Linked DNA regions of Homo sapiens. The protein of the gene in region 2 interacts with the protein of the main gene of each other region in a pairwise test. Each region holds a gene or a part of one and is shown on either strand. Other genes may lie near its edges.

What was found.
Region 1: the proteins of ABCF2 (region 2) and ANKRD28 interact in a two-hybrid assay, tested with the Homo sapiens proteins (one large-scale study listed by BioGRID).

What each region holds. Positions count from the first base shown.
Region 1 is NC_000003.12:15,686,309-15,690,128, forward strand, and holds part of ANKRD28 (serine/threonine-protein phosphatase 6 regulatory ankyrin repeat subunit A), read right to left. Parts: coding exon 3,711-3,820; intron 3,581-3,710; exon of another isoform or gene 2,039-3,580; coding exon of another isoform or gene 2,003-2,038; intron 2-2,002; coding exon 1-1. UniProt on the Homo sapiens protein: Regulatory subunit of protein phosphatase 6 (PP6) that may be involved in the recognition of phosphoprotein substrates. Involved in the PP6-mediated dephosphorylation of NFKBIE opposing its degradation in response to TNF-alpha.
Region 2 is NC_000007.14:151,220,610-151,224,429, forward strand, and holds part of ABCF2 (ATP-binding cassette sub-family F member 2), read right to left. Parts: intron 3,506-3,820; coding exon 3,323-3,505; intron 3,241-3,322; coding exon 3,069-3,240; intron 2,008-3,068; coding exon 1,912-2,007; intron 1,072-1,911; coding exon 969-1,071; intron 1-968. Other genes in the region: ABCF2-H2BK1 (ABCF2-H2B protein), read right to left, coding at 969-1,071, 1,912-2,007, 3,069-3,240, 3,323-3,505.

The DNA.
Region 1 (3,820 bases), on a different chromosome or scaffold from region 2:
GCTGTAAAGTGAAATTTAAACATTTCAGTAATTACATATAATGATAAAATAGAAAATGTCCATCTAAAAGCACATCTTCTAGAATTTACTTTTGGGATAGTTGCACTGAATTTAATATGCAAGAATGAAAACTATAGGTAAAAAGAAGGTTTCTACGGCCTTTGACTGTTAAAGCTGGAATAAATGTGAATTCCTCACAGTAAAACATGACAGGCAGACCGCCTACCCAGCACCCATGCCCTATCATCTGCCTCTAAAAGAATGCTCATTTTATTTAGCTCTCTGGCAATGTGGTCAGGAAGAGTGCCTTGACTCCAGCAAAGGGATGATACCATGATTAGACCAAGTCAATCACAAGAACCCCATTCTCCTCTGACAGTGATCAGTTTTAAGGTGAGCAGCACAGGAACCAGGTCTGACTACTGAGATGCCGATAAGTCTAGAGGCTGCTGGGAAATACTTTTATCTTTAATAATGAAAAGCCCCCATTCCTTCCTGATTTTAGATGCAATCCTTAAAAGCAGCAGCAATAATCCCACAACATGAATGCAAATGTAAGAGAATAACAGAATTTAATCCAGAGCTCTGACACCGTTGTAGAATCAACCAACCCTGGAACTGCATCTGCCTGATATTGCTTTTTTTTTTTTTTTGAGACAGAATCTCGCTCTGTCGCCCAGGCTGGAGTGTAGTGGTGTGATCTTGGCTCACTGCAACTTCCGCCTCCTGGGTTCAAGCAATTCTCTGCCTCAGCCTCCCAAGTAGCTGGGATTACAGGCGCCTGCCACCACACCCGGCGATTTTTTTTGTATTTTTAGGAGAGATGAGGTTTCACCATCTAGGCATGGCTGGTCTTGAACTCCTGACCTCATGATCCACCCACCTCGGCCTCCCAAAGTGCTGGGATTACAGGCATGAGCCACCGTGCCCAGCCTGCCTTTCGACATTGTATATGAGACACTAAACCCCTTAAGCTATTTTCAGTAGGGTACTCTGTTATTTATGGCTGAAATAATTTCAAATGATATATATATATATACATACAGTACAAGAAAAATGATCCATCTAAAGAATGCATGTGTTAAGTCCAAATGCATAAAATGGGCAAGGGTACAAGTAGAAGTAGTCCAAAGAAAAGAGCTTTTGAAGTAAGTTAAATCCTCTGCAAAATTCAGGTCCTGTTAATATATACAAAGTCTGAAGTTTAAAGAAATACATTAGAAAAAAATGTATCTTGCATATGATACAGAAAAGAACGTCTATCACTATTTCTTCTAATTAAAAGATGACAAAACTAGCAAAAGCAAGCTAGGTGCTGAATATTCCACAGTATGTTCCCACAGTTATATTAAATACTAATAGTTATTAAACTTGTGGCTTAAATCACCTCTCCTACCCTAGTCCAATCTGTATGCTGCACTCTGCCAGCAGCTCTCACAGCTTAGCAACAAAAAACAGGGTCGTAACACTTGGGGATGTTCAAGAAGAACTTGTTTGGCCCATCATTTTTCAAATCAGTTCATTTACACTCAGTTCACAGTCGCTACTGATGAATGTTTGTGTCATCTAAGTTCAATACCCAAACAGCAAGCACAGCATCTCTGTGGGAAATGACTGGTAAACCTCCAGGAAAAAAAACCCTCAGTGTTCTTTTCATGGCTTATAGATGCTCTCTATAGACCTCCAAATTTGAAAGGCATCTATAGATACAAGGCTTGCATTTATTGAATAGATAGGCACTAAGAGTAACCTGTGGTTCTTTTTGTGGGTAGGATTTATGCTGAACTATATGGCATTGGTTAACTACTTCTAAGGGACTGGCTAATGTCTCAGTTCAATATTTACCTATTGAGAGTGCAACCACTCCATGCAAGCTTTAAATTAGTTCTGCATATGATCTGCAATTATAATTTTTCTAGCTATAGATTAATATTTTTAAAATGTACTTATTTTTCACAGATCCCATCCAGTGTACAAAATTGATTTTTATTTTATATTTTAGGAACAGGGTTTCATCATGTTGCCTAGAGTGCAATGAAACTGAACTCAAGTGACCCTCTTGCCTCAGCCTCCCAAGTTAGGTGGGAATACAGGCATGCGCCACCAAGTTTGGCTTTGCAAAGTGATATATAACTTCACTCTTTTTCAGAATAAGGTAACAGCAAGTAATGCATTTTAACCTCTTGTTCAAACCATATAGTAGTGTATATATGTTTATTAGAGGTTCTAATGTATTATTAAAATATTTTTCTCAGCCCCACTTGAACATCTGATAGCTTTGAAGGGCGGCTCTGGGAGTAACAGTGGGTGTTATCAATAGTCTTCTAAAATGTAAGCTTCCCAAAGGACTAGAAAAAAAATCCAAGACATATATTCAAATGTATTCTTAAGGATCACTCTATAAAAATAGAGAGTTGTGAATCTGCATCTGCCAGTGATACGCAGTGGGTAGCAAGTCATTTAACTGACTTGGTTATAGACCTTCGTATTTTAACGTATCTGCTACATCATAATATCACAATATGGAATAGTTCTTGCATAAAGTGCTCTGTAAAGCCTGTCTGCATAAATGTTTAATGCAGTACACTGGTAAAATAAGTCAAAACGTGTATCACTTGTTAAATGAAAGATTATACCAATCCAAAATAACTTCTACCAGAAAGAAATAAATACTGCATTGTTTTGTTGATAAAGTGTTTCAGAAGTTAGATTATTACATAAACCCAACTTCTAAGGCAGATAATGTTTTAAGTGATGATAGTCTTGTTGTTGGTATTCCCTGAGAATACAATCATTTTACCACTTAAAGTCAAAAATTTCCCCAGACAGTTGTAGCTCTTGGTAATCTCCTTGGGTCTGGAAACTTTTGAAGAGCCAAGCTGACATTTTTCAGCTCTTTGGGCCACTGGGTTTTAGAGGGAGAAGTCCAGAGATAAGTCCAGGCTGTAGCACAACCTTCAAAACAACACAGGCGCCTCTCTGATCCTGCCCTACCTAAGCTTTGACGGTAGTGGGGCTTCTGTCTGGAGAAATGCCTTCAAAGAGTAACCAGTAGGTGTGACATAGAATTGGCCAATGTTAGCATCTGCAGCCATCATCAAAAGATGAATCCACTGCCACTGCCCCCTGAGGGGCCCCTAAAATTGCAGAAGGTATCAGCAAGGAGGCTGCCAAGGTTGTTTTCCAAGAGAGGCCACAGGAGGAAGGGAGCTACTTGGGGGCACTTACATCTTTTGTGCAGAGGAGCTTCTTTTCATGAGAGCAGGACAGTTTTAATGACTTCTTAAACACTTGTGTGGGACAGGCTGGAGCATGAGGGAGGTTTTAAGCCAGGCACAAAGTTAGTTTCAAACACTAGTTAATAAATCTATTTTTATTTCCTTTTTCACACAGAAGCTGGTAGTCTAGGACCTACATGTAAACAACTTTATATGAATATTTTTTGTGCTTGGTTTACTTGGGTTGATATAATACACTGTATTTAAGTTCCCTGAACACTGGGATACTCCTAATGTTTATGAATGACGGAGGCTTTGTAAATTCATTTGTGTGAATAAAGTTATTTGGTGAGGTCAAATAATCCATATATGATTTGAAAAAAAAAAAGGTCAAAATTTTAAAGACAATTAACTGGAAATATTATATATCAGAAATTGAAAAAAAGTATTGGATAGAAGTTATAAATAAATCAAGCATAATATCTGGCATACCTGCTGCATGAATAGGTGTCCTCTTCAAAATGTAATCTTTTACTAAGATTGAGGCTCCCTGATTAATGAGTACATCCACACATTCAACATGGCCCTTAAAAGCTGCAAGA
Region 2 (3,820 bases):
ATCCTGACCCCCATTCTCCTGTGGTCATGGGAGGTGGGGTAAATGTGTAGACTCCAGTGAAGCAGAATTAAGAAGGCATTCAAGAAGGCAGAGGGAGGCCTCGTGTGGTGGCTCATGCCTGTTATCCCAGCACTTTGGGAGGCTGAGGAGGGCAGATCACCTGAAGTCAAGAGTTCAAGACCAGCCTGGCCAACATGGCAAAATCCCGTCTCTACTAAAAATACAAAAACTAGCCAGACATGGCAGTGCATGCCTGTAGTCCCAGCTACTCAGAAGGCTGAGGTACAAGAATCGCTTGAATTCAGGAAGTAGAGGTTGCAGTGAGCTGAGATCATGCCAGCCTGGGTGACGGAATGAGATTCTGTTTCCAGAAAAAAAGAGGCAAGGCAGATGAGAGCAGGGCCTGCCTGGTCACCGTGAAAAGTCAACTTCTTTGCCACAAGGCAAACATACACCTTGTGTGCACAGGCTGCCAATCCATGGCCTATGGCCTGAAAGCAATGACTTTGGGATTAAAATAAAACAGGTGGTAGGACTCCTTGTCCATATCTTTTTATAGCAATAGGTAGAAAGGAGCTAATAGATAGGTCTGCTTTTTTTTTTTTTTTGAGATGGAGTCTTGCTCTGTCACCCAGGCTGGAGTGCAGTGGTGTGATCTCAGCTCACTGCAACCTCCGCCTCCAGGGTTCAAGTGATTCTCCTGCCTCAGCTTCCCAAGTAGCTGGGACTACAGGCACCTGCCACCACGCCTGGCTAATTTTTTTGTATTTTTAGTAGAGACAGGGTTTCACCATATTGGCCAGGCTGGTCTCAAACTCCTGACCTCAAGTGACCCACCCACCTCGGCCTCCCAAAGTGCTGGGATTACAGGCATGAGCCACCACACCAGCCTTTTTTTTTTTTTTTAAAGAGAATTTCAGAGAATTGGTATGCACAGAGATTACCAGAAGAAGCCGAGGCCCACTCACCGTATAATACTTCAGTTTCTTGTTGTGCATGTGAATGATATTGGTACAGACACCATTCAGAAAATCCTGGGAATGGGAGACGAGGACCAAGATGCGCTTAAAACTGTAAAGCCAAAGAACCAATTAGTGAAGAGCTCAACCATGGGAGCTAGCTGACAACAGGTGAACTGAAAGTCAGGCCCATCCTCATCCCTAAGCACCTTTTAGATGTGTTGTCCAATTCCTGGCTGTTAGCAAGCACCTAAGCCACGACTCGACAATCTAACTGTAAGGGTATTTGGACGCCTTTCAGTGTGGCGAGACAGCCTGAGTTTCCTCAATCTTCTGTTCTAATTTTCAACAGAATGGGATGGAGACGGTAGTAACAGTGATAGTAACCAGAAGTGTGTATGTACACAAATACACCCACGAATGTATCCAAAACTGTGGGTGGGAAGAACTGGTACAGACACAATAAAAAACAAAATGCTTTACTTTTTGAAAGAAGGTACTAAGTCATCGTACCACTAAAAGCCTTCTTTTAAAATTGGTACAATATTCCAGCTTATTCAGTTCTTTAGCTGTAGGACCATGACCATATTGGCTATATTTTCCTTTGTCACTGCATCATGATCTTAGATGGAAGACCTCTTTTTAGCTTTATACAATTAAGAAAAAAAATATATCTTTAATTAAGATCTTGAATTTGAAATATGGACAAAACCAACAAGGATTTTTTTTAAAAAAAAAAGCTCATAAATTTCAAACTAAAGAAAAACAATCAAAATAAAAGGCCAGCCTTCAACAGCCCTAAAGGTGCTCACTGCTTGTCCAAGAAAGTGAACTCTGTCCTTCCTTCAGTTCCTTTCTCACCGCTCTAACATCAGTGCAGTTTCTGGGCATCCATTTTCTAGATTCCCCCTTTGGGACCTGCCCGCTCACATCCCCCATTCCACCCTCTTACGTTTTTAGTTCTTCTTCCAACCACACGCAAGCATCTAGGTCCAGGTGGTTGGTAGGCTCATCCAGGAGCAGCATGAAGGGCCGAATAAAGAGGGCTCTGAAGGACGGTAAAGGAGACAGAAGCACCTCAGAATTATAATGGATGTGACACAGGACGGGACAAACTTGCCTGCTACATGCAATTCTGAGTAGGCTCCTGGCTTGAGTCTTGAAATCAATTTTAGGCTCTATACCTCAGAGGGAAAAGGAGAAGCAGGACAGAAACAAGAGTCGAAGAGAAGAGATTGAAGAGTAGAATACGGGGCTCAGAAGCATATAAGGACAGTTCGAGGCAAGGCTGTAGAAGTCTTTATGAGTTTATGAGCCTTGTGCACTGAAGTTGGAGACTACGGAGAAGACAAAAAAATACAGAGGAAATAAACTGCTAAAACAAATTAGACCTATCTGAAGGTCTGAAGATAGACCTATCTTGTGGGGTGGCCAGAGTCTAGCGAGGGATAGACTCTAAAGCTCTGGTTCCCAAACCAGAAATCTGTGTTTTTAAAAGCTCCTTGGGTGAACCGGAGGCAGCTAATCCTTGCTAGCATGTGGAACCACTGTGCTTATACTCTAAGGCACATGCAGGCAACTTTCTAGAGAAGTATATCAAGTCTTATAAATTCCCTTCACAGAGAATGATGGGGCAAGGAATTACCTGTTTAGTGACTCTGGGGGGATTATTGGGGGAATGCTGGTCTATGGAAACTCACTTTGAGTCCAGGCCACAAGAGAATAAGAACGACAGCTATCATAATAGCCGTCTAACATTTTATCTTTACAGCTGGAATTAGCAGGACTAGAGTACAAAAAGGGTGGAAAGGGAATCCTGGTGGGAGGACAGAAACAGACCTACTCCACCGTTTTACCTAGGACTACCCCTAGGATCTCTAAACTCTGTGCTGGGTGCTAAGAATCCAATAGAAAACTGAGTCACTCTACCACTTCAGCCAGGAAGCTCTCTCTCTAGCCCATACACAACAACCCCCTCCACACTGCAGATGTCCATGTCTCATTTGACACTTACCACTGACTCCTGTTCCAAACAGTTCCACTGGAGTGAACACTAAACACTGGAGAGATGGGGGAGTTATGGGGGTAGGGAAGGAGGGAGGGACTCACCTGGCAAGGGCAACCCTCATCCTCCAGCCCCCACTGAAGTCTTTTAGCTTCTTGCGCTGCATGGCAGGTGTGAAACCCAGTCCATGCAAGATCCGCGAGGCCCTCATCTCTGCCTTGTCGGCATCCAGCTCCTCCAGGCGCTCGTAGAGCTCCATGAGCTTCTCACACTCCGCTGTGGACAGTGTATGGCCATGAGGCTCCTGGGGGCCTTTCTGGGAGGACGCCCACCCCTATGCCCAGGTCTGGAGCCCTACCATCCTCATGAGCCAGCCGCTCTGCCTCTTTCTCCAGCATGGCCCGCTCTGTGTCGACTTCCATCACACAATGCAAGGGTGTCTTGTCACTAGGGGGCATCTCTCGAGTCAGATGGTAGATGTCGATGTGCTCAGGGATGGGCACTTCACGCTTCCCAATAGCAGAGAGCAGCATGGACTTTCCTGAGAGGGGAGAGCAGCAGACGCTTGGTACAGTGAACTCCCCTATCCCTCTTCACCACTAGTTCTTCCACCCCAGTCAAACTGGGACCTCATCCATTTTTTTTTTTTTGAGGACCTTTCTTCCCTTCATTCGTTCAAATCTTGCCAGCCCCCATTCTTGGGATTCCTTTCTAACTTTCCTCCAATTCTTGCCCCACCCCTTATCTGAAGCTTTTTTCACTTACCACAGCTTCACACGCCCCTGACCAACTTCTCCAGCACCTGCTGTAACTAATCATGTGGTACAGGGTGGACGCACCCTAATCTGAAAATCCA